Linked DNA regions of Homo sapiens: region 1 is linked to region 2. Evidence: fine-mapped expression QTL. A gene starts in region 2. The other region holds a variant in brackets. All regions are shown on one strand. Distances are between the middles of the regions. Region 1 overlaps NR1I2 (nuclear receptor subfamily 1 group I member 2). Region 2 holds the start of NR1I2 (nuclear receptor subfamily 1 group I member 2).

Evidence for each region.
Region 1: its variant is fine-mapped to the expression of NR1I2 in hypothalamus (GTEx, PIP above 0.99). The same link has a PIP of 0.9 or more in whole blood.

What each region holds. Positions count from the first base shown.
Region 1 is chr3:119,806,934-119,812,305 of GRCh38, forward strand. It overlaps NR1I2 (nuclear receptor subfamily 1 group I member 2), which reads left to right. Exons shown (of 9, transcript NM_003889.4): 2 at 296-514; 3 at 3,128-3,261; 4 at 4,606-4,793. The coding sequence starts at 318. Among named protein-coding and RNA genes, the nearest start is that of NR1I2, 28 kb to the left of the region's middle. RefSeq lists enhancers at 2,763-3,266, 3,244-3,303 and a silencer at 2,774-3,033. The variant G/T (reference allele first, on the strand shown) is at 3,333.
Region 2 is chr3:119,778,799-119,784,170 of GRCh38, forward strand. NR1I2 (nuclear receptor subfamily 1 group I member 2) reads left to right here and starts at 3,303. Exons shown (of 9, transcript NM_003889.4): 1 at 3,303-3,502.

The DNA of each region.
Region 1 (5,372 bases), 28 kb after region 2:
GACAGCCTGCTCTCTTTTCTTCTCATTTCTTCCTCCCTCTTACCCTTATCTTTCCCATGCTCCTGTTCACATGTTCTACTCCAGGGCTCTATTTTTGTGTACAAAATGTCATGATTACAGCTCTCTTTATAACAATTCCAACCCCCATTCCCCGCTTTTTTTCCCCATGAGAGGTCAGCTCCCGAGTTCACAGGCCCAAATGTGAGTGATGCATAGAAGGGACAGAGTGTTTCCTCTGAGGCCTCTACACATCCCTGTCCAGTCTTTTCATTCTCTGTGGTTTTCTCATTTCTAGTCCAAGAGGCCCAGAAGCAAACCTGGAGGTGAGACCCAAAGAAAGCTGGAACCATGCTGACTTTGTACACTGTGAGGACACAGAGTCTGTTCCTGGAAAGCCCAGTGTCAACGCAGATGAGGAAGTCGGAGGTCCCCAAATCTGCCGTGTATGTGGGGACAAGGCCACTGGCTATCACTTCAATGTCATGACATGTGAAGGATGCAAGGGCTTTTTCAGGTAGAGTTACCCATCAGCCTTCACCCACGTGCCACCACTGACCCACTGGGTAACGTCTCAGGGCCTCAGCTTGACCTGTCCCCCAGGTTCAGAGTGTGGGCTGGTGGCCCACCCAAAGGCCTTGTAATTAGTCTCAAGGGAGCCATTTATATCCCAGAGGAATCCTTCATCTTCAGTCTTCCTGTTCTACCCAGGAAAGGTCTCCTTCCATTAAGATATCCCTTGGTTTCTCCATGTGCTCTTGAATAAAATGGAAAATGACTCAGTGAAAGATAAGGAATTTGAAAATCCCAAATCCAAGTGTTCACATCCGCCTTCTGGGGTGGTTGTTACATAAAGAATGGCATAAAATAAATGCTTAGACCATGGGAAGAGAAACAGACCGAAGGGAGGGGAAGGGCGGGGAGGGGAGAAAGCCATGTGTGAGGAAGCACTCCAGGTGCACCCTCCGGAGGGCACAGGGTATGCAAGGAGCAGCTCCCATCTCGGGAGCCACATGTGGGACCCTCATGCATTCCCAAGACAGCCAGCCTGACAGCCCTTTGCAGAGTTCTTCGTGGTGGCTGGGCATTCAAATGGAAAAGGGCAGGTTCCAGGGAGAAATGAACATTCGTGTTGCATGAGTTATAACAGGGGTGAGACACATCAGCAGTGTCAGACTGGGTTCAGCTACAAGTCACAGGACACTTGTCGCCAATTGGTTTGGCAATAAGGAAAATGTGTTACCTCTCCTAACAGGAAGTCTGAAGGCCTCCAGGTTAGTGAGTTCAGCAGCTCATTTCTTTCCATTTTTCTCTTCAGCCATCCCACCTGAGAGCTCTGATTGCAGTCTGGCTCCCCTTGTGGGGGCACAGTGCTGGGGCCCCAGGCAGGAATCATTATGTTCAGCAGAAGCGCACAAAGGCCCATCTTTGAGAGTAAGGAAATCTTTCCCAGGAGTCCCCTCACATTGGCTAGAGCCGGGCCCAGCCTATGCCTGAACTAGTCACTAGCAAAGAGCAGCAGGTATGTCCCTGAGCTGGGCACACGCCACTTGACTGTGTGGAAGAGGGTGGATGTCTGCACCAGCTCCAGATGCTGCTGGCACAGAAGAGGCTGCCCAAGCAGTGTTCGTGCATCCTGCCTCAGCATGCAGGAATCTTCTGCTCTCCCTTCCTCATTTGGGTACTATTCCTGGGACTCTCAGAAAAAGGCAACATGTTGTAGTGGGCAAAAGCTAAATCCAGTATCAGGCAGACCTGGATTCAAATTTCAGCTTGTCATGTACCTGGAGGACAGCTGGGGATCCATCGTCTCCAAGCCTCAGTCTCCCTCATCTGTGCTAGGCAGATGAGATTATGAGTTTCACAGGGTTTTAGAACTAAATTTACAAAACTGCAAAATACCTAGCCTAGCATCTGATACATAGCATACCTTTAAATAATGTGAGCCCCGGTTTCATCTTTTACCCATTCTCAGTGGACTTTGATGTAGCATCAGAGTTTTCTTACCCAGGCCAGTTGGGAAGGCAAAAGGCAGGGATGGCATCTGTGAAGAACATGCCCCTGGGCTGGTCACTGGTCCGAGGCCCGAGGCCTCCAAGCTCAAACCTGCCAGGTCACTGCGGGCTTGGCTCAGCTTCCCAGGCCTGCCCTCGGGGACCTCTGCAGCCCTACCTGGCTGTTCCATGCTCCTGGGCCAGCCTTCCCTCAGTTTCCACTCTGGACCAGAATCAGAGGCCAGAGCCAAGGGAGAGATTGTTTCTTTCCATCCAGCTGTGGAGATGGGGAAAGTAAAGGTAGGACTGCACTGACCGTGTCTTTTGTGGGACAGGCAGGACTTCCGGGCTGGGAGGAGGAGATCTTGTACCAGAGTCTCCAAAAGGCATCTGCCCCATTGCCTCTCTGCGCACCGCAGAGAGGGGTGTGCGGGCCCGTGGGTCCCGCCTGCACGCTCTGCTGTTCCAGGCGCTCGACCTCTTTGCCCCCTAGGTCAACGAGGGGAATCCACTCTGCCATGGGGAAGTCGCTGCCCCGTAGGGTATAAGAACTTCCCCATAGTTCACCCCTTCCTCCCTGGCCGCCCAGTCTGGAAGGGGAGCTGGAGAAGGCGGCGGGGGGTGGGGGGAAGGCGGGGGGGAAGGCGGGGGGGTGGGGCGGGCTTCTCTGGTTTCTTACCCTCCTGGGGTCAGGTTTCCTCAGCTCCCTCCCTTAAGGAGGGGAAATCGAGGAAGAGGCCCATCTCCATGGAAACTTTCTGGTAACAAGGCTGTGAAAGAGAAGGGGACAGGTGTTTCAGGAAGAAGGGAAGGCGCTGAGGATGGGCCTGGAGAGGAAGTGTCCCTGAAAGTGGTTTTGGGGCTGCCCGCGCCAGCGAAAAGCACGTGTCCCATTTCCTGCCGGAATGGCCAGAAAAGGTCTCCTCCCCGGCTCTGCCCCCTCTAGCTGAGTCCTGGACCTCTAGGGACTCCCACCTACACCCTTCCCATAAAGCCTGACCCAGCTGGGACGCAAAGGCTAGTGTCCCCCTCCCCGAGTCGGTAGGGGCTGGGGAGGGAGGTGGTATGGCCCGGAGCCCCAGGCCGAGGGCCCGGGCACCCGTGCATCCCCCCTTCTGCTCCCCATTCTCTCACAGGAGGGCCATGAAACGCAACGCCCGGCTGAGGTGCCCCTTCCGGAAGGGCGCCTGCGAGATCACCCGGAAGACCCGGCGACAGTGCCAGGCCTGCCGCCTGCGCAAGTGCCTGGAGAGCGGCATGAAGAAGGAGAGTGAGCAGTGGGCGCGCGGGCGGGCCGGCGCCGGGGTGCACGGCTCTGAGTAAGGACGTGCCGTGGGTGTG[G/T]GCATGCTTGTGTGGAGATGCGCGCCGAGTGTGCGCGTGAACACACGTGCACATGTGAGCTGGTGTCCGTGTGCAACAGGCAGCCACCTGGGGGAGCGCTTGCAGTCGGCCCTCTGGGAGATGGAGGGAGTCGGTAATCTCTGCCCTGGGATGTGTGCTGGGCAGCCCTGGACAGGGCGTGCCCTCTGTCTCCCCTCAGTTGCTCCTGCATCATTCTTTTTGTCCCCTTCATAATTGTTGTAATGGTTTGAAACCACATTTGCGGGTAGGAGTGTGAATCTGGGGGAGGGAAGCAGGAGCCACATGGGTGATAGGACCCGGGGCCTTCTAGGTGCTAGCCCCATCAGCTGCCCCAGACCTGGATCTTTATAGGGGAACTGTTTGCAGACAGGTGACATGAGGTGTTCTCATTCTACCTATTTAACTTTGATATATTTGTGCTCCTAGGTCACTATGAGATTAAGGCTCATGCGGAAAAGGCTAGGTGTTTCTAGTGCATATTTGTCTCCATGGAACACAAAGGGACCCAAAGCTGCTTCTTTCAAGGACAAGTTCTCTAGGCTGCTGGCAGGCATTCTTGATCTCTCCCCACCAAGGACCTCATAGCTTTGTTCTACACACATGAGTGGGCTCCAGAAATCCACAGAAGACCCTAAGGCTCTGGGCTATATAAGAAGTCTCTGGAGTTGCTATTTCTTGCTAAGCTGTAGCCCAGCTCTCTAGGGTCTTGGAGACCCAGACACCTCTGAAGAGTCTTGGTATATAATTCACCAGAAAATGATAATTGTAGATGCCATTTACTGAACATCTCTTATGTACCAGGAACTATATTAGGCACCCTACATGCAAGGTCTCATTTAACAGCGGTGCGAGGTAAACACGGTTTCTCCGGATCACAAAGGAGAAACCTGGAGGCAGGAGAGGTTAAGGAGGTTGCTTGGGGTCACAGGTAGTAAGTGGCAAAGCTTTCATGCAAACCCAGCGCCTTTGGATTCTGAAGCCCGTGCTCTTGCCAGGGCCCCACAGTGTCCTCACAAACTCCACTGCAGAGGGCAAAACACCAGCCTCACCTCATCTCTGTCCTCACCCAAGTGTTTCTCCAGAAGAGCCCACAGGCCTCTTGAGTCCAGACAGGGGAGAATTGCTTGTCACCATTACTTTCTCTTTTGCCTAACGGCTTCTGCTGCCTTGAGAGGGTTACACAGTGGCTCTCCAGGGGGCTGGAGGCTCACCAGGGGCACGTGTGCCTGAGCCAGCCTCACTGTCCCTGCAGTGATCATGTCCGACGAGGCCGTGGAGGAGAGGCGGGCCTTGATCAAGCGGAAGAAAAGTGAACGGACAGGGACTCAGCCACTGGGAGTGCAGGGGCTGACAGAGGAGCAGCGGATGATGATCAGGGAGCTGATGGACGCTCAGATGAAAACCTTTGACACTACCTTCTCCCATTTCAAGAATTTCCGGGTAGGAGGAACTGCACAGTGACCCGAGGTGTCACTGCCATCTTCATTCTCACATAGAAACTGAGGTTCCCCAAGGATAAGAAACTTATACAAGGTCACAGCTAATCAGTGGTGGAGGGTAGATTTGGAGAGCTGGTCCTGCATCTGTGCTAGCTCCTCAAAGCCTTAGTCTCATTCCCAAAGGTTCTGAAAGTGTGGTCCCTGGGTCAGCAGCATCAGCATGCAGATTTTCAGGTCACCTCAGATCTCCTGAATCTGAAGCTCCAGGGAGGGGCAGGACCCCCCGGTGATTCTGTTGCAGGTTCAGGTTTGAAAAATCACTGCTCTCTCCTTTAAGGCAGGTAGGAACTGGGTCTAAGCAATAAGTGGAGGGAAAGCTAGGCAGTTCCCCAGTGTTGCTGGCATTCGGGGCTTTATGAGGACAGGATCAGGACCTGTTGGGGGTGTGACTTTTGTGAACTGGTGTTTCTTGATCCCAGCACATTAACTATGTCTGTGCTCTAAGTGCCCTCCTTCCCCTTTGCACTGATAGATATCTCAAGTGGCCCTTCACAGCCCAAATAACTGGATTAGCCCAGTG
Region 2 (5,372 bases):
CTCTTCAATAAAGGCAGAACTCTATTAAAGCATATTAGTAAAAACCATATTTAAAAGAATTACTACACTGAACTGAGCAGCCACCAAATGCAATTGGTACCAGGTGATATAAGGGCTTCTCCTCTCAGGGGGCTTATAAGCAACTAAGGCAGGAAGTCACAGATACCATATTCTGCAGTGTAATTTACAAATGAGGTGAAAACAAAGTGTTCCAAAATTCTAAGAGAGACATTGGAATTCTGACCACAAGTGTAATTTATGGAGCCTCAGAGTAATTATAGGATCTGGAACAGCTGGTGCTCAAATTTAGTGGTCCTCCAGTTGCTGGAATCTGCGATTTCTGGGAAGTTAAACTTTGTGTCACTGCTTCTACTTGTGATAAAATGAAACCGCTTTCAAAGAGAAGATTCCTATTCCTAGCCTTTTTGGGTAACTTCTACTACCTCCACTTAAGGATGAAAAGGGAGAAGTTTCCTCCAAGACTGCCTCATGGGGATCAGAGTGTCACCTCCATGCTCCTGCCCTAAGTGCCCCTGAGCACACCCCAGAGGGAGGCTAAGAGATTTTTGAGAAAGACCATGTGACTGGCTGATAAACACCTATTTTCCTCAGATTCCACCTGAATTTATATCATCAGTGCATCACTCTTTTATTTTGTTCTCTCTGTTCCTCTTTTTAAATATTAATATTCTCTGGAGAGGGGTAAAACATTAAATGAATTCACACTGAGGAAACTGGCCAGGTACAATGGCTTATGCCTGTAATTTCAGCAATTTGGGAGGCCAAGGCAGACAGATTGCTTGAGCCCCAGAGTTTGAGACCAGCTTGGGCAACATAATGAGACCTCGTCTCTACAAAAGAAAAACAAAAAAAAAAATTAGCCAAGCATGGTGGCACACACCTGTAGTCTCAGGTATTTGGGATGCTGAGGTGGGAGGATTGCTTTAGCCCAGGAGGTTGAGGCTGCAGTGAGCCATGACCATGCCACTGCACTCCAGCCTGGGTGACACAGCAAAACACTGTCTCAAAAAAAAAAAAGAAACTCTTCAGGCTGATCAGATCTGCTTTTCTCTGATGAGTTTCTTAGGAGCTCTACATTTCTGGTTGCTGCAATAGGCAAAGTATAGAATGGAGGTCAAGGCCTCAAATTTCTCTGACTTCCCAGCTGGGCTTGAGAGTGACTCTGGCCCTCAACTGAGGGCATTAGTAAGCTGTCCTTAAGAACGAGAGTGTATTTTCTGGCTGTATTCTTAACTCATTTCACTATAGAGCCATGTCTGATATTAACAGTGCAGTGCTAGACTAGAGAGGCCTGGCACTCCTACAGCCTTCTCCTGTCTTCTAGCTGGGACTTCACACCACAGACCCAAAGGAAAAGAGACCCAAAGATCCCTGCAGAAACCTGAGAATATTTCCTTTACCTCAGTGGTTTCATAATCTGTTCTTAGTTTCCTGTTTCTGCTGTAAATAATTCACTATATTTTTAAGAGAGAGAAGGTCAGGCCCTTGTGAGCCAGAAGGGATTTGAGAGATGATGAAAGCTACGTATGTTACCCATAACCTAAGGACTTCTGGCAAGGTGGCCTACCTGAGCTGGAGTCATGCCTTTTTTCCCTGGACTTGGAGATACCTGTCAGTGCAGAAAGGCCTACTTTTGATCTTGGAAATAAGTTTCCTGGGGTGAGTTCTTAACCCTTTCCAGCTTTCCCACCCTCTTTGGCTTTAGCCATGGCCTTCTGATCTGTGTTTCTCAGGGGACCTGCAGGCCCCAGATATAGCCCCATGCTGTCCTCCTACCCCAGAGCACACTGTTCAGGCTACTTCCACTGGTACTGAAATCCAGTATTTCACTTACTCTTTTTCTTTCCAATATCCTCATGACATTCAATATTTCACTTACTCTAGGTCCTCCCTGCCTAAGGCCCAAGTCAACTTTCTGTCCAGTGGGATTTGTAATCCAATACCTCCTAGCCCTAGCAGAATCCCATGTGGATAATCAGAAATGTGACTGGAAAAAGGACAGAGCTCTATGGCTGTGGGTCCCAGTCCCCACTGCTGGCAGTAAGTCCCCAGCAGTGAGCTGTGTAAGCACCTTACATTCTGCGCTTGGTTGAAAACAGCAAGGCAAGCATCCACTTGAGAAATGTCAACCCCTAGGAAATCCCAGCCTCAAGTCTTTCTCATCCCTTGGGAAGTGCAAATTGGATAGAGAAGAAACCAATTAAAAACAAAACAAACAAATCATACTTAGATATTCTGGCTTTTCTCACCAGGGCTGGATTAAAGCATGTACTTCAAAATAATAACAACTTAAGTCAATAAATAAATGTAAGGAAGTCCAAATGTTCACCTGAAGACAACTGTGGTCATTTTTTGGCAATCCCAGGTTCTCTTTTCTACCTGTTTGCTCAATCGTGGTCTCCCTCTCCCTCTCTTGTTGGGGCCCATGCCCCTGCTTTACTGTTGCCAGAGGCTTGTACTTGTTTGCCTTTTAGGTAGGAGCAGTTACTTCCACTCCCCTCACCTGCCATAAAGCATCTTTATAAACAAAGCAAGTAGAAGAAACACATCCTGGTATCCACCACATTCGGCTTTTGTTGATTCTGTTCACTTGGGAGCACCTGCTGCTAGGGAATAAGAAGGTTGAGGCTGAAGAGTGAGGACTCTTCAGCTCCCCTCTGGCAGGACCCGGGAGAGGAAAGAGCCCTCAGCTGGTCCATCCTCCCCACTCCTGGTCAGCCTTCTGTTCTGAGATCAAAGTGGTGGGGTCACATTCTCGAGAACTGTGCTCAGCCCCCTCATCTCACACCCTTTCCCTCTCCCTGTGTGCCTGCCCCCCTCTTACATAACCATGCTGGTGATTGGCACCGTCATAAATCAATACTTTGCTCACTTTCACATCAAGTAACACTATCCAGGGAGGTGGTTTCAACAAAGGAGGAAGTATAAGGAGATCTAGGTTCAAATTAATGTTGCCCCTAGTGGTAAAGGACAGAGACCCTCAGACTGATGAAATGCACTCAGAATTACTTAGACAAAGCGGATATTTGCCACTCTCTTCCCCTTTTCCTGTGTTTTTGTAGTGAAGAGACCTGAAAGAAAAAAGTAGGGAGAACATAATGAGAACAAATACGGTAATCTCTTCATTTGCTAGTTCAAGTGCTGGACTTGGGACTTAGGAGGGGCAATGGAGCCGCTTAGTGCCTACATCTGACTTGGACTGAAATATAGGTGAGAGACAAGATTGTCTCATATCCGGGGAAATCATAACCTATGACTAGGACGGGAAGAGGAAGCACTGCCTTTACTTCAGTGGGAATCTCGGCCTCAGCCTGCAAGCCAAGTGTTCACAGTGAGAAAAGCAAGAGAATAAGCTAATACTCCTGTCCTGAACAAGGCAGCGGCTCCTTGGTAAAGCTACTCCTTGATCGATCCTTTGCACCGGATTGTTCAAAGTGGACCCCAGGGGAGAAGTCGGAGCAAAGAACTTACCACCAAGCAGGTATGGTTTTTCTTTCTTTCTCTTTTGCTGGGGGCTGACCGCCCTTCAGCTCCAGCCAAAAGATGTGTGTGAACACAAATATACCTTCTGTTTGAGGTCAGCATCATAGTGGGTCGTGAATCATGTTGGCCTTGCTGCTGTCTCCTCATTTCTAGGGTGGAAAAAAAAAAGCATGAAAACAATCACTTAATGTTGAGCCCCATTACTGATGCTCTCTGGTCCTGCACTAGCCTCCTAGAAAAATCACCACAGGAGAAGCCTTAACTACTGCATGAGTTACCACAAGTCACACATACAACCAGCTCCCTGTTACAGGGCTGGAGTCCCTGGACCCAGGAAATACCACCTCCAAGGACTGTGGGAGCTGGGGACTATGGGAACTGGGATCAACTCAGTCCTGATTCCTTTTGGCCTGCTGGGTTAGTGCTGGCAGCCCCCTGAGGCCAAGGACAGCAGCATGACAGTCACCAGGACTCACCACTTCAAGGAGGGGTCCCTCAGAGCACCTGCCATACCCCTGCACAGTGCTGCGGCTGAGTTGGCTTCAAACCAGTGAGTTTTCTACCTCTACTATTGAAAGGGCACCTTGTCCCACAGAACCGAGTCTTGCCTGCATGTGGTCAGTGCCACCAGGTCCTTCTTCTCTCCACTTTACAGCCCAGCTCGGCTGAAGCTATGGCCAGAGGCACTGCTTTAAGGCCACTCCATATCTAGGACAGGTCAACAGACACCTCTGAGGCCACTGAGTCTTGACTCAATGAATCAGCTATAGCAGGCACTATTCCTCTCCCACATGGCCTCTAATGATATGGTCAGAGTTGAAAGGATGCTAAGGGAGGCCTCAGAGGCTTATTTAATCAGTTGGTTAATGGGAAAAAGTATTTTGTGGTACACAAATACGCTTTAAAAATATTTTAGTTATGTCATAAAAGTCTAAACCTGGGGTTGACAAACTATGGCTCACAGGCTAACTCTGGCCCACCAGCTGTTTTTATAAATGAAGCTTTATTGGAACACAGCCATGCCCATTCGTTATGTATTGTATATGGCTGTTTTTGCCCTACAACATCCTTTCAACTCTGGCCATATCATTAGAGGCCATGTGGGAGAGGAATAGTGCCTGCTATAGCTGATTCATTGAGTCAGCAAAATTGACCAATTGCGAAAGAGACAGTATGGCCCACAAAGCCTAAAATATTAACTATCTGGCCTTTAACAGAAAAAGTTTGCCAACTCCTGATCTAAAAGCTGTCAACTTGTTCCAAAATTATTATGGAATAAACCCAAGACAACCACAAAACTGACTAGACTAGGTTTTTTAGGTAATAACTTTTTAAATTATAAAGTAATACATGATTTCATGCTCCTTGAAAATGAGAAAGCAGTATAGATAAACCTAAATTCACCTTTGGCCATTCTGTCAATCCTAATCTCCAGTTTCCCCAAAAGTACTTAGTGTGATATATTTACTGCCAGACCATTGTGTCTGTGTGTGTGTTCATCTATGCATAGATGGACTATTAAACCTATCTGTTGCCATGTTGTTCTAATTCTGTTTTTCCACTCAATAGCAAGACTTGGAGACTTTCCATATCTGTATAGAGCTCTACTTCATTTATTTTAACTGCTACGTCATATTTCACAGTGTACACTTCTTTTATTTAGCCGTTTTCTTTTCGATAGATATTTAAGCTTTTCCAATTTTTCAGTCTTACCAATGAACCTCACTGTGTTTGTCTGCTTCTAGACATGTGCACGTATTGCACTAGAGGAACTACTAAGACGTTGAATTGCCACATCACAGGATATATGTGGTTCAATTTTTGGCTGCCAAACAGCCCTCCACAGTACCCGAACCGACTGTACTCCC